Regions from separate parts of the Homo sapiens genome. Here region 2 is linked to region 1. A link means that fine-mapping ties the variant in region 1 to the expression of a gene that starts in the linked region. Tissue or cell type: whole blood. Region 1 holds a variant in brackets; the other region holds the start of a gene. All regions are shown on one strand. Distances are from middle to middle.

Region 1 (7,911 bases):
TCTCAGAAGATTTCCATTGTTAAGCGACACATGACTGCATATATATATGTGTGTATGTTTATATATGTGTGTGTATATATATGTATGTCTATATAGGTGTGTATATATATATCTCTACACACACACACATGCACACAGGCACACATGGGCAGGGCCTATGGCAGAATCTCACATCTCAGATTTTAGACAAAAATAAGAAGTTTCAGAGAGGTAAACTTAATGTCATTACCAACAAATTCTAAAATGAACTAAAAGGGTTTGTGACATTCAAAAAGTAAAGCAATTTTTAAGATGTCATGCCAAACATACTTACATGGGAACTAGTCAAGATTTCAGTTTTGGTTTGTGGTTTCTTGACTAGCTTTGGGATCTTACGCAAGTGGCTTGAGCTGTCATTTTCAGGTTTCCTCATCGCTAAAACAGGAATAACAACTCCTCCCTCTAACTCTTAGTATAATTTTAAAAATCATATAAAATACTTGTGAAATGGTTTTTAAAACCTTAGAATACCACAAAATATTAGCATTTTTTAATGTAAGCATTCACTATATTATAATCACAGAATTTTAACACTGGAAGAAACTTGATACATGACCTGGTACAAAAATTTCAGAGGAAATAAAGACCTAAGAAGGGGAAAGAAAATGTGCACTGCAGCTGCACTACACCTGCCAAACTTATTAGAACTCAACTATATGCAATCAGGAGAGACAGCGAGAGAATGCAAACATTCTACACAGTCTAATGACTGTCCTATAACCTGAGAATAGGTATGAAGGGTGAAACATGAGTAGTTTCTTCTCTCATTGGATCTCAGTTGTTCCTAGTGTGTTTCTTTTTTTCCTCGTATATATTTAAGATATACAAAATGATGTCGGTGTGTAGATGTGGGTGTGTAGATATATGTGTGTGTGTGTATATATATTTATTTATAAATGATTACTGCAGTCAAGCAAATTATCCATTCATCATTCATCCTGGTGCCTCTTATAGTGACAATATTCAACCCTGAATTCTATGGAAAGAGCATGAGCACGATTTTTTTTTTTTTTTTTTTGAGACAGAGTCTCACTCCGTCAACCAGGCTGCAGTGCAGTGGTGTGATCTCGGCTCACTGCAACCTCCACCTCTCGGGTTCAAGCAATTCTCCTGCCTCAGCCTCCTGAGTTGCTGGGATTACAGGCGCCCGCCACCATGCCCGGCTAATTTTTGTATTTTTAGTAGAGACGGAGTTTCACCATGTTGGCCAGGCTAGTTTCGAACTCCTGACCTCAGGTGATTTGCCCACCTCGGCCTCCCAAAGTGTTGGGATTACAGGTGTGAGCCACTGCGCCTGGCCATGAGCATGATTTTAAGGGTTTTCTGACAACTGAAAAAGTGAAATACATTGTTTATTTGGCCAGGCACATTGAGGGTGTTAGATGCAATGACAATCTTAAGGATGAAATTGAGGAATTAATGGAGAGCCTTAGAAAGAAATGATTACCAAAGCAAAGCTAGAGGAACTGATAAAATAATCTATAAAATACAATGATGACACAATGAAAGAACTAGTCATTTGGAATCTCTTTATTTGCTGAGGTCTTCCAAGGAATGGAATATATAAATAATTTAACTTCTATGTGCATTCCTTCTATGGAATAAAGTGTCAAAATTAATATTTTAAGGATATTTAAGGACTTTTCATTTTACCAGATGACTTTATTCTGAAAGATATATCACACCTTAGAATAAAAAATACTATAAAAATCATTAGTTTTTGTGCTTTGCACAAGTCTAGTATAGTATGAGAACAGACTCCAGGAAACTAACAGATGAGGGAAGACCTGAGCTAACAGCAGTTAGTATGAGGTTGACTCATTTGACTGCAAATCAAAATCGAATTCACACGGTGACATGGCTGCTGAAAAGACTGATGCCATCTTAGGCTGAATTAACAACTACAAATTGCCTAATCAAAAGAAAAAAATAGCTTAATTATACTTATAAGAAGCCAAATCATATTTGAGAGGTTGTTCATTTATGGTACAACAGGTCAGAGGGGCATGGAAAAATAAAACAGCACTTTCCAAACTTACATGGCCATGGCATCTACCACCTTCACACTTCATTCTTTTTAATTAAAAAAAAAATAATTATTAAAATCTCCCCAACTGTTCCAAAGCACAGTTTGGGAAACACTATTTTAGAGCTTCCAGGAGACAGCAACAAGGAAGATGAGAGACTCGGAATCCAATCTTAGGAAGAATGGACAAGTAACTGCAGATGGCTTGAAGACAAGTCCTAGGACACAGGACTGAAGATTGCAATTTAAAGGGTCATGATCTGTAAGAGGGAGGCATTCTGTAAGTTGCTCCGGAAAACAGACTTGGGCAGTTTCAAGGAGGCATATTTCAACCCAATACAAAGAAAGAGTACACAAACATGAGGATGAGCTCCCTCGTATGAGGAGAGAGGTTGGTCATGACATATATTCTGATGCCACCTCTGTTAGGGACACTGTAGACTAGCATTACCCAAACTAACAGCCTGCAACATCCAGCCTGGGACTGGATGATGTTTCTAGATGCTCAGGAGAAAAAAAAAATGTCCCATGGTCAAATAATTGTGGGAAACATGGCCCCTCTGTGATATCCATCGCAATATACGTTAGTGTTTAAAGGCTTTGAGAAGTAAAGAAACCTGTGTAATTCAATTTAATGCAATATTTTCCTAACTTACTTGGCAATGGAAACATCTTTTTCCATGGCATTCCCAATTTCAAAATAGCACCTTCTTTTAGAAGGAAGAGAAGGGGGCAGAATTAGACTAGATGTACACTAAGTGACTGAGGACAAGTTTGGAACTCAGGAAACTGAACTATTAGTAGCTAATAATATATTATGAATATAAAATTTATTCTCCTTTCAGAAAGGTTGACAATGAAAATTGACTCAATGTTTATTTTGTTTTGAAAAAAATCAAATGCATTTAAATGAAAATTAATAAATACAACATAATTTTTCTGTGAAAAATCTAGGTGATTGCCAAACTCACCTACTGCCGGATTTGTCCGATTGCTATATTTCCATGCCATCTCATAGTTCAAGGCAGCATCTGTATATGCTTGCTCTTTTTCCATAATGTATCCCATATATTCATAAGCTTTGCAGCAAGACTGAAGAAAAATGGGAGACATCAATAGATTAAACTTGATATCACTAAGATTTTATGGGATGTTTGTGACTA[T/C]AGAGGTCAATCATATCAACCCATTTAAATGACAAATCAAACAATGGTTTTCAACCTTGGCTAGGCAATCAAATTTTTTACTGAACTTAATAAATGATTCTGATGGCAAGTCTCCATCACATATCTGCAGAATCAGGATTTTCTTTACAGAATCAGAAATACACAATAGGGCACTTGTGTTTTACACAAGCACAGGTACACTATTATGAGTGATTTAAACACATACAAATACAGAGATAAGAGCATAATGAACTCCATGAACCCTTATCTTCAATAATTATTTTTTGACTAATACTGTTTCACCTCTATCTCACAAACCTACCCTTCTGTATTACCAGAAAAAATCCTCAGATATTGTATCAACTAAGTCTAAATGTGTTAGTGTGCATCTGTAAAAGAAAAAGACGTTATTTAAACAGAACCACAATTTTATCACACCTAAAATGTTAATGACTCCTTAATAGCACCAAATATCCAGTACTGTCTAAATTTTAATTGTCTCAATATAATTTGTTTTTGTTAGATTGAGGACTGAAATAAGGACCAAACATTGTAACTGGTCAATGTTTTGATCTAGTCTCTTGATCCAGAGGTTTCCCTTCTGGTATGTCTGTCTGTCTCTCTGTGTCTCTTTTCTTGAAATTAAATGTAATAGAAACAAGAATATTTATCCCCGAGTTTCTCACAACGCAGGTTAATTGACTGCATCCTTGTGGTGTTTATATAATATATTCCTATGTCACTGACGTTTTCTGGAAGTTGTAATTAGATGTAGAGGTTTGGATTCAATTTTGATTCTGGAGGAGAGAGGTGAATCTACTTCAAACATCAGTGCTATGATAAGCCACACTGAGGCATAAAAACATGGATGCATGTTTTTGTATATTTCTTAATTGTAATTTTTTTCCAGAATATGAGTTTAAAAATATTGAAAAATCTGAAAGTATATATTAAAAATCACTACATTTAAGACTGAACATTTTATTTATACCTAAACTTAATTTCTTATCATTTTACTTTTCTCACTTTAATGGAAGAAATCTCACCAGTAATATTTTCATTAAAACCATTACCAATTACCCATTTTTTAAAAAACATAAAAATATGAATATAGGAATGCACATATTCCCTTTTGATTCAGGCTCCAATAAAGCTCAGCACAGCTGCATTAAATTATTATTTATCTTGATTACTAAGTGTTTCACTTGTCTCATCCCAACCCTAGCCCTGCCATAGATGTCTGTTCTTCTGTTGGGAGGCACAGAATGTCTGATTCTCCCTCTTTTTGTGATGTTACATCCATATATAAATTTATCAGGGTTGAAAAATGGGGATAGCCTATCAGTCTTTCTTCATTAATTAGCTGGAAAATGTCTATGATGAGAAACGTCTCATTGACTATTTGGTTAACCAATTCTGTACAGAAAAGGCAGGATATTTATTTGCAAGCTTTAGAAATAGCAGTCAGTTCACTAGCATACTGCAGTGGTTACCAATTAGGTTTTTTGTTTGTTTTGTTTTTTCTATTTTGGATCTTCGAGAAGTCATGGATTTAAACAGATTTTATGTATTTCAATATATTGCAGTTATCATTCTTATCAATACTTAAAGCATCCCAACTTCGGCTACTAGAGGTGTCTTTAAGTTGGCCCCTAGATCTTTCACACAAACTCTAATCATCATGGATAGCTTCCTTCATCATCTGGTATGGCAAGACAGTCTAGTGTCGTCTTGTACATTTCCTGCCCCAGATATGGATGACTTCCATTTTTTAAATTATGTAATTCAAGTTTCCTAAGCTTTAGTTCTTAAATATCATGCTTTCAATATCAACATATTCAACCAGCAGGGCTGAATGAAGCTTCTAAAGCAGCCATCATGTTCAACCATGCAATGTATTGTTATCAGCGTTCTGGCAAACTGAAATTGTATGTGCACTGAAATTCTCATGCAATCTTGGTTAATCCTAGACTAGATATAGAAGGGTAAACTATTCAGCAGTTTAGATTTTCAAAGCCTATTAATGAGCATTCGGCTTTTCAAAGCCAATTTAACATAAAATTTATGTAGCTAATCGTCTAGAATAGTGCATAAATTGACAAATGCTTGGATCTTTCAGGTTCTTAAGTTCCTAGGAAAGTATCTTAATAGTACTAGATAATCACAATTCCTCTTTAAAAAATAAACGGTCCATTTGTAATCTAATTCGCTCAATGAGAATAAAACAGATTTACTGTGATTAAGATTTTGAAGTAATTGATATGAATATATGAAGATAAATATCATTTCTAAGTTGTGTGCAATTATTTCTCAACAAAAAAATAAATCTTAACTTTAAAGAACTGTTATAATGACATCTTTTGTAATTAAACATCAAAATGTTAGTAAAAAGCCTTAAATTCTAAGGACTTTATAATATTCAATTTTATACCTAAATATAAGGAATTTTTATTAAACAAATGAAATTAAAAGCTGAAAAGATTTTCTCCCACAAAATATATTATGCATAATAGATTCTAATAATGAGAAAATGACATGCAGCTGCAGTAAATTCATCAAGAGTATTTCTTAATGGGAGGGACAGACGTCCGCAATTAATGTTCTTCTGCAATTTTCATTAGTTCTGGGATGAGATGGATAATCACAGGCAATCGTTTGACATTCCAAAAACACTTTCCGTTAAGTAGGGCATCACTACAGCTGAAACTTGAAATTGCATAAATCTTTCTTTTTTTTAAACTTTAAAGGACAAATGGCTTTTTTCTTATTATTAATGCTTGTTTCCTGATTGTGGTAAGAATAAACATTTAATTTTCAAAAATCACACAGGAATCCTTGGAAATGGACTAACACTCAACAATATCTATATGGAAAGCTTATGCAACAAAGGTCAATAATTATTTTTTACTCTTCAATCACCTACTCTATTATGACGCAGGCACCGTTTTAACAGGTCTTCTGCCATGTCATATTTTGCTGATTGAATGTAAATATCAGCAAGTAGCAGCCAACTCTTCTCAAACTCTTCAGCATCAATAGCATTCCAATTCATTTTCGCAATACGCTTCAGCTGGTTTCTGGCTCGTGGAGTCTGTTTCAAGATCATATAAGCCGTTGCCATTCCCAAGAGCGCTGGGATATGCTCCTTCTATAAGAAAACAAAATTTTAGACCATAAGATGCATAAACATAAATGCCCCAAAAACATACAGAAAGCAGAAAATGCTACATAAGAACTAGTTTGTGGATTCTATTTCTAGCTCCATTACAGATAACTGTGATTACAGGTCATTATTTAACACATCAAGTACCCTCAAGCTACTATGAAGAAAACTTGGTCAAGCACTGTGTGGTCAAGATAATTGAAGATAATGACAACTATTCAGATGCCATATGCACACAATTCCAAGAATTAGTGAGACTTTATCTTTAATGGGATTCAAACAGTCATGTTTTAGTTTTGTATAGAAACAGAAAAAATAAAACTCTATTTCAGTAAAATCCTTATTGAGCAGTTTGTATTTCAGATTTAACATTTAGGCTCCTTAGTTCTTTCACCTGTCAAAGACGAGTAACAATAATTTACCTGCAGATGATGGTCCTTACCCATTATGACTTCTATTGCTTTTTTTCCCCCTCCCTTCTCCTTTTATCCAAAAACCTCTTCTCCCAATAAAGTTTGAATAACGAAATGTTAAAAATAAGGCATATAATTAATTCACCACTTGGAAAGTATATGAAATAAACTCATGCCTTAAAATATGCTTTTAGATTTGGAGTCTGCAGCTTCCTAAAACAATCTATATGATATTCTTTTGGATAGAGTTTGAAGTCAGAGAATGTCACTCTGTGAAACCAATAGGTTAATGAGAACTCATAAAATGGAGGCCATTAGTGATCTATCCAGACAACTAACTTTCATAAGCAATAATGTGTATGTTCCTGATTAAGGTAGGATGCTTCCTAAATTTCAGCAGAGGGATTATGATGCATTTATAAAGAAAGAAGCCTCAGCTTAACATACAAATAAAGGGGCCAGGAGGGCAGCTCATGTCTGTAATCAAAGCACTTCGGGAGGCTGAGGCTAGTGCATAGCGAGACCTCGCCTCAACTGAAAATACAAAAGAAAAACTAGCTGAGTGTGGTGGCCAGCCCCTGTAGTCCCAGCTACTCAGGAGGCTGAAGTGGGAGGATCTCTTGAGCCTGGGGGTTCAAGGCCACAGTGAGTTATGATCGTGCCACTGCACTCCAGCATGGAAGACAGAATGAGACACTGTCTCAAAATAAAAACAAAAACAAAGGGTAAGAAATTGTGACTGAGGAACGGTGATACCATTACTATAATAAAAGTATACTATAAGATAGCAAATTTGGGTAACTCATAAGGAATACTGCAAAAGGAGAGTGGTAAAATGTTCAATGTCCAACTGATCTTTGGAAGTAAGAAATAACTCTGGAATAGAGAAGGGCAATACATCAGGGTTTTATAAAAACAGCTTTTAGAAATATAAAAACTTCCTTGCCTCAAATTCTGTATCTATCAATAAGCTTCCAAGATATAATCTGTTCCTCTAGGTAAGGGGTGGCAAAATGGTTTGAGTGTCAAATCCAACCAACTGGTTGTAGGTTATGAAGAAGTGTGGGATGTTACCAATTACTGAGCCTCACCCTCTCCCCACCTCAG
Region 2 (7,911 bases), 72 kb after region 1:
CACCTTTTTTCCTTTGCCCACATTTTCTTGAACGTTTTAGAAAACAGAAAGGCAGACAATAAACAGGAACTAAAAAAAAAAAAAAAAAGACAAGAGGCTTCCATTGCCAGACCATAGGTTTCTTTAAAAAAAAAAATCTTCTTTTTAAAATATCCAGTATTTTATTACAGCATTACAAAGTAATGACAAATTTAATTCTTCAACATATCATCAAATGTTATCTTACTCGGCTTTGAGTTCTGCGACAAATAAATTGTCAGTTAAGAATAAATAAACTATTTTTCAATGAAAATCGTTGTCTTTAAGCTTTTTCCAAAGTTATATTATTTCCATATACAAGACAAAACTACTATCAGGACCTACTAACTTCTGAATAAAAATGGGCCTGTGCTGTCTACCATTTTTCCTACGATTATGTCTAAGGCTTGGTTGCTAACCTCATCAAAGACAGAAACCACACTTTCCCACCATCACTAGGATACACCTGATTCACCAGAAAGCAGTTTGGGCCACCCCATACCTACCTACCTGGACTCTACAGCTTGTTCAGTAGCAGTGAGAAATACAGGTGACTAAGTGACAGGATTGAAATCTAAGGGTATCTAGACAGCTCTGGTTTGTTTGTTTTGTTTTGTTTTGGAGATTCTGTCACTCAGGCTGGAGTGCAGTGGCGCAATCTCTGCTCACTGCAATCTCTGCCCCCTAGGTTTAAGCGATTCTCCTGCCTCAGCCTCCTGATCTGGGACTATAGGCACACCCCACCGCACCTGGCTAATTTTTGTATTTTTAAGTAGAGATGGGGCTCCCCATGTTGGCCAGGCTGGTCTTGAACTCTTGACTTCAAGTGATCCACCCGCCTGGGCCTCCCAAAGTGCTGAGATTACAGGCGTGAGCCACCACGCCCGTCCGACAGCTCTGTTTTATATAGTCTCTTGCTTCTGGAGGGCTATAGTCCATGTACTTCTCTAGATCAGTTAGGCGACTGTTCTCTGTAATTTTACTCTGCCTCCCTCCTTGTGATCACTGCTCCCTAACCTCCTTTTTAGCCATGTTTCTTAAAAGTGTGCTCCATACCCCATCTCCAGACCCCCACAACACATTTCAGTGAAACACAGTTTTCCTCCAATGCTCCATTCCCTAAAGTTGCAGAATGACTTCTTACTTTGCCACAACTAAGGACACGTTTAATACCTTACTTGACTTCTGCACACTATCACTAAGCATCTATAATCCTCCTGAAAGGCAGTGGCATAGCACCATAAAAAGGACGCGAATTTAAAGGCAAAAAGAATCTCTGGTCCTTCTTACAACGCCTCAGTCTGCTCATTTATAAAATGCTGTTAGTAATGCAAATGTACAGGTCACTGTGAGAATTAATTAAGATATCATAGTATAAGAGTTCTATTCTGAAAAAAATAAGTTCCTCTGCATCCCATATGTTAATGGAATAAAAAAAAAATGTGTCCTGCGCCAAGACCTCTTGTCTATGTTCCAGATTCATATTTCCATTTTCCACCTGCTACCCTGCTACTCATGAATCCTCCCTTCCTATTTGCCCAGTCTCTCTAAGTCTAACCACTTAGTAGGTTCTTCTATTTCTCCAGTCTACCTCCCACTAAACATACCTAATGCTACTGCCTTGGTTCAGGTTAGGTTATTCAATCCAAAACATTTACTGACTGCCTACTAGTACCCAGGCACTGGGCTAGCTACTATGAATAGAAAAATGAGTAAGACATGGTTCCTGTCCCCCCGGAAAACCTACATTTTTCAGATGAGACTGTAATCTGAAGACTAACTGAAATATAATGTAGTAAATGTAAGAAAAGAGCTTATAAACTCCTTTGGGAATGTGGGATAGCAACATTTTGACAGCATTGAAAACTGAATGTGGTGTGAGGGGAGGATGGATGACTAAAATCAAGGGAAAGATTATTGGGGAGGATTTCAGAGCTGACTCTTGAATTGCAAACCCCTCATTCTCCCTCCACACACGTACACGCTCTTCCTATTTCCTTTTCATGATTCTTGAGGAAGGTACAGGAGTTAGGAAGAGGAACTGCAACAACACAGATAACAAGTCATCAATGGTACATTGGGATGGCAGTGGTGATGAAGATGACTAAAAGCCACTCCATACTCTAGAGCAGGGTTTGGCAAACCACACTCTGTGGGCCATATCTGGCTGGCTGGCTGTACAGCCAGTGAACTAAGAATGGTTTTTATATTTTCCAGCTGTCAAGGAAAAAAAAGAAATATTTCATAACATGAAAATTACATGAAAGTCAAATTTCAGTGTTCATAAATAAAGTTTTATTGAAACACAGCCATGCTCATTTAAGTATTGTCTATGGCTGTTTTGAACAAGCCAATTAGATGTGATAGACCATACGGTCCATAAAGTCTAAAATGTGTACTATCTGGCCCTTTGTTGAGAAAGTTTGCTATTCTCTGCTCTGGAGGCTTAAGTGAGACAGAGAGTATTGGATGATGAGGTTGGAGACGAAGGTGGGGTGAAAAGCCTCATATTAAGTACTTGGACTTGAACCTCAAGTCTAAGTAATGAGGAGGCCCATTTTTACATTTTACATTAAAGTGTTTTTATTAAAATGTTCATTTGGGTGGCAGTGCAAATAATACATTTAAGGGAATAAAAAAATGTAAGGATATAGGGGGATAGCTAGAACAGAGGATAATGTAAAACTTCAGGCAGAAAAACAAGACATTTCAGCATTCCCTAACCTCCTACATCGCCAAATTGTCCTCCATCCACTTATCACCATCTCACAGGATACACATTTCATTTACCTACTTGTTGTCTGACTCCTCCTACTCAAATGTAAGCTCCAAGATTGGAAGAGTTTTTCTTGGTTTTATTATTTCAGTGCTTAGAACAGTGCTAGACACATAGGAGGCATTCAGTAAATATTTGTTGAGTCAACTGAATTAGGGTTTTTCCCCAGCATTAATTAGCCTGTAAAATCTGAGAAGGCAGAAACTGTTCAGTTTTGCTCACTGCTATCTCCAGCTTCTAATGGACATACAGTAACCCTTCATAAATATTTGCTGAACGAGTGATTCAGTGAACAAATGAATAGAGAAGACCAACATCCGAAAAGTTATTTTATTTTCAAGCCTCATGTCTTTAACTGTTTTATATCAGCCTTTCTTAAGTTGACCGTCATTAATATTTGCTGAATGAATGAGTCAGTGATAAACAGAGAAGACCATCACCCTAAAATAACGACCCCTCCACTTTTAAGTCTTACGTCTTTAATGGGTTTCATATAATCTTTCTGCGCTCTTTTTACTGTCCAGTGTGGGAGCTGACACTAGTTTGCCTTAAGTCCTTAAAAATCGCACCCGGAGGCGCAGTGTCATAGGTAACCCAAGCTTTCCTAGTAAACATGATACAAAAGTAAACACAACCAACAGCATGGGGACCAGCAATTCAGAAACACCGAGCGGGCGGGCTGCCCAGACCTGGGCTTCCCCAGCAGGGCCCGCGGAGACCGGCCGTGAGCAGAGGCTGCAGGCCCACCCCGCAACCCGAGCAGCCGGGGCACCGCAGGGAAACAGCGGCCTAGCGAAGCCACCCGAGCTCCCTCCGCGCCCCCGGGCCAAAAGGCCGCAAAGGAACTCCGCCCGCCCGCCCGCTCACCCGCTCACCCGCTCACCCGCTCACCTTCAATTCCTGCGAGTCCATGGCTGCCCCGAGGCCGGGCCGCGGGGCTCTGGGGATTGTCTCGCCGCAGCCTAAAGGAAGACGCAGAATTCAGCTCCCCTAGCCTCCCGGAGCGCTCTAGCGCCCCGGGCCCCAGCGGGAGGGGCGGGGTCGCGCCGCGATTGGCTGTCGGAGGGAGAGGCGGGCCTGTGTGGCGGGGATCGTGCTGTAATGGAGCAGGGGCGGCGGGGACCCGGAGGTGAGGGCTGCGAGGGCCGCCCGGGAGGGTCCGGGCTGGGAAAAGGGCCTCCGCCGGAGAGTGCAGCTGGAAAAGGAGGTCACACTGGGAAACGGCTGTCTGAGGACAGTGGGTGGGCGGGCCGAGGAAATGGAATTCAGGAATAAAGGAAACGGAGTATGAAGAAGGGGAAGTCTGTTTCCTGTCACTGGTTGTAAAGGAAGACACCATTTTCTGCACGTTTGTCTGGAGGCGGATTCCCGCAGTGCGGCTCTCAGCAAGGCTCTGCCGGCGCGGGAAAAAGCGGTCAACTTTCACGTGGGCAAGTTGTTTTACGGCCACAAGGTGGCGCAGAAAAAAAAAATCACACGTTCTTAACAGAAATACGGTGCGCTTGGGCCCGTCTTTGCAGGCGTTGCTGCAATCTTTGTTAGAATGTGTGTTCAATTAGCCCTTTTTTACCAGCCCCGATAATAAGAGGGACAAATAAATTAAACTTCCAGAAAATTAGTGTCTTGTTTTCAATGATACTACTGATTTTAAACTGAGAATAAAATGAATCCCAATGCAAATTTTTATGTTTGCACCCCATTAGGCAACTCAATCAGTCACACATAGATTTCTTAAGTCCAGGAAATTAAATGGAAATATAATAGACTAAGATTTTCTATTTCTGCTTAAATAAATATTTAAAATAGTGCATAAGGTCTGAGATTTAAGTGATCTTTGCAGAATCTTTCACGTGGATTCCAAATTTTGATCCTAGTGTTAATTATCTTACTTTAGTTGACATGATACGTAGTTGCCTTTTCCAGATTTTAAGTTTCTTAAGGAGTTTATAAACATTGACTTTTTCCCCATGCCAATAGGTTATGTAAGGACAGTCTTGAGAAAAACGGTAGCTACCATCCTAGGCTTTAAGGTGAAGCAATATTTCTCACCGGTTTCTCTTTAAAGGAATTCACCACGTATTTTCACGAGCAACTTTTTTTTCTTTCCAATATTTATAGTCCAGCTAAATGTCTGTGGTGATGAACAACTGGTGATATCTCTTTGATTTTCAAAGCTGCGGATTAATCCGCACTTGGTATACAGCAAAGAATACCACAGGACCAGGGTGCTCAATGAAGTGTATAATCTTGAACTGTAAACCTTTGGTTATAAGAGAAAAGTTCATCTGTAAGGAAATATCTCAGGATCATGGTTAACAGAACAGATGATCAACCTACCTTTTGGAGATCTTGAAAGTCATATTAATTTAGCCTCGTATTCTCTTCACTGAATTCTGTTCTAAGGTTGAATTATTTAGCACAAAACACCAAGCCTGATGTTTCATAAATGTTTGTTGGATTAAAAGTACTCTGAGATTTGCTTTGACACTCACGGTGACTTGGTGTGCCCTGTGCCCTTACTAGATCTCATGTAAGAAATTTATTTTGGATCTCAGGCCAGGAAAAACTCTTGTCTTTCCTGAAAAATCGATGTGTTCCTTAGCAGTAACATTTTTATCGGCTCACTTTTACTAGCTACAAACTTTTGAGTCTGATATCCATGACCCTTCACCTCATCGTCTTTTCAAGCCTTATCTTCTACCTCCCCTTCAAGGAGCCTTTATTCCGCTCAGTGGGACAAATATTCCTTCTTCTGGTAATGCTTTCCCCTACTTTGTTTTGAGCTCTTTCTTCACCTGAGAAAATCTCCTTCTTCTGAGTTCATTTCAAATTTCATGAAGTCTTTAAGGATCACCATAACTGGATGGGTATAAAAATATCACAGTGTAGTGGCAAGAATACCCTCTTCTGCATCTGAGGTGGAGCTCCTATTACGCTAGCTACTTTTGTGACTTGGGGAAGTAATTTCCCTAAGCCTCATTTTCCTTATTTACTAAAGAAACTAAATGCCTTACAGACATATTAAAACTTCCTGACACATAATAGGCATTGTATAACCAATAGTTTCCATTAAACACGTAGTGCTCTATAGCAGTGGTCCCCAATCATTTTGGCACCAGGGACCAGTTTGGTGGAAGACAATTCACAGAAGATAAATTTTCCATGGACAGGGGTAGGGGAGATGGTTTCGGGTTGAAACTATTCCATCTCAGATCATCAGATTCTTATCTAAGGAGCATACAGCCTAGATCCTTCACATGCACAGTTTATAATGGGGTTTGCATTCGTATGAGAATCTAATGCCTCGCTGATCTGACAAGGAGGTGGAGCTTGGGGTAACGCTCCCTTTCCTGCCCCGCAGCTCACCTCCTGCTGTGTACCCCGTCCTGCTGTATACCCCATCCTGCTGTGTAGCACTGATTTGCAGTCCTCAGATTGGGGACCCCTGCTCTATAAGACTTATTACACTTGCATAGTCCTTGTATTACTAGTTATAGTGCATTTTTGTTTAATGTTCTCTACCAGATGATGAGCACTATAAAGCTAGATAATATAATGTAGCAGTTAACATCTTCGTCTCCAGAAATACGTCATTTTCGTTCAGACCTTAATGTGTCCGGAATTGGTGGGTTCTTGGTCTTGCTGACTTCAAGAATAAAGCCGCGGACCCTCGCGGTGAGTGTTACAGTTCATAAACGCACGCAGACCCAAAGAGTGAGCAGCAACAAGATTTATTGCAAACAGCAAAAGAACAAACCTTCCACAGAGTGGAAGAGGACCCCAGTAGAGTGCCCCTGCTAGCTCAGGTGGCCTGCATTTATTCCCTTATCCGGCCCCACCCACATCCTACTGATTGGTCTGCTTTACAGAGAGCTAATTGGGCTGTTTTACAGAGAGCTGATTGGTCCGTTTTGACAGGATGCTGATTGGTGTGTTTACAAACCTTGAGCTAGACACAGAGTGCTGACTGGTAAATTTACAATCCTTTAGCTAGACACAAAAGTTCTTCAAGTCCCCACCAGATTAGCTAGACACAGAGCACTGATTGGTACCTTTACAAACCTTGAGCAAGACACAGGGTGCTGACTGGTGCGTTTACAAACCTTCAGCTAGACACAGAGTGCTGACTGGTGCATTTACAAACCTTTAGCTAGACATAAAAGTTCTCCAAGTCCCCACCTGACTCAGGAGCCCAGCTGGCTTCACCTAGCGGTTCCCGGCCCGCCGAGACTGCAGCGGAGCTGCCCACCAGTCCCGCGCCACGCGCCCGCACTCCTCAGCCTTTGGGCAGTGGATGGGACCGGGCGCCGTGGAGCAGGGGGCGGCGCCCTTCGAGGAGGCTCGGGCTGGGCACGAGTCCACCGGGAGAGGGGAGGGCTCGCGCATGGCATGACGGGCTGCAGGTCCCGAGCCCTGCCGCGCGGGAGGCGGCTGAGGCCCCGTGAGAATTCGAGCGCCGCAGGGGCAGGCTGGCAGTGCTGGGGGACCCGGTGCACTCTCCGCAGCTGCTGGCTCGGGTGCTAAGCCCCTCACTGCCTCGGGCCAGCGGTGCCGACCCGCCGCTCCAAGTGCGGGGCGGGCGGAGCCCGCGCCCACCTGGAACTCGCGCGGGCCCGCCAGCGCCAACCGCAGCCGCGGTTCCCGCCCGCGCCTCTCCCTCCACACCTCCCCGCAAGCAGAGGGAGCCGGCTCCGGCCTTGGCCAGCCCAGAGACAGGCTCCCACAGTGCAGCGGCGGGCTGAAGGGCTCCTCAAGCACTGCCAGAGTGGACACCGAGGCCGAGGAGACGCCAAGAGCGAGTGAGTGCTGCTAGCAGGTTGTCACCTCTCATTAATACTACTATTCACTGGCTATTCAGTTGGAAAAAGTTATTTAACTTCTCTGTATACTTCAGCTGTAATATCAGACTAACACCTCAGAAAATTGTTAAGAAGACTAAATAAGTTAATATTTAAAGTACAGAGCAGTATTAGGGGTATGGTAAGTACTGAATTACTGTTACCTATAATCACTTGTACTCCCAACTACTCCAGAGTACAGTATTGATCACATAAGTATTTAGAAAGTTTTACAGCATTGATAGTTTTTTTCAATCATATCTGTGTTTGATTTTCTCC

What was found. PIP is the estimated chance that this variant, and not a neighbour inherited with it, causes the effect.
Region 2: TTC21B starts here. The variant in region 1 is fine-mapped to the expression of TTC21B in whole blood (TOPMed, PIP 0.97).

What each region holds. Positions count from the first base shown.
Region 1 is chr2:165,877,643-165,885,553 of GRCh38, forward strand. It overlaps TTC21B (tetratricopeptide repeat domain 21B), which reads right to left. Exons shown (of 29, transcript NM_024753.5): 26 at 6,152-6,376; 27 at 3,037-3,157. Among named protein-coding and RNA genes, the nearest start is that of TTC21B-AS1, 52 kb to the right of the region's middle. The variant T/C (reference allele first, on the strand shown) is at 3,229.
Region 2 is chr2:165,950,000-165,957,910 of GRCh38, forward strand. It overlaps TTC21B (tetratricopeptide repeat domain 21B), which reads right to left and starts at 3,777. Exons shown (of 29, transcript NM_024753.5): 1 at 3,686-3,777. The coding sequence starts at 3,706. LOC102724058 (a long non-coding RNA gene) reads left to right here and starts at 7,419. Exons shown (of 4, transcript NR_110598.1): 1 at 7,419-7,593. RefSeq lists a silencer at 3,628-4,027 and an enhancer at 3,792-4,541.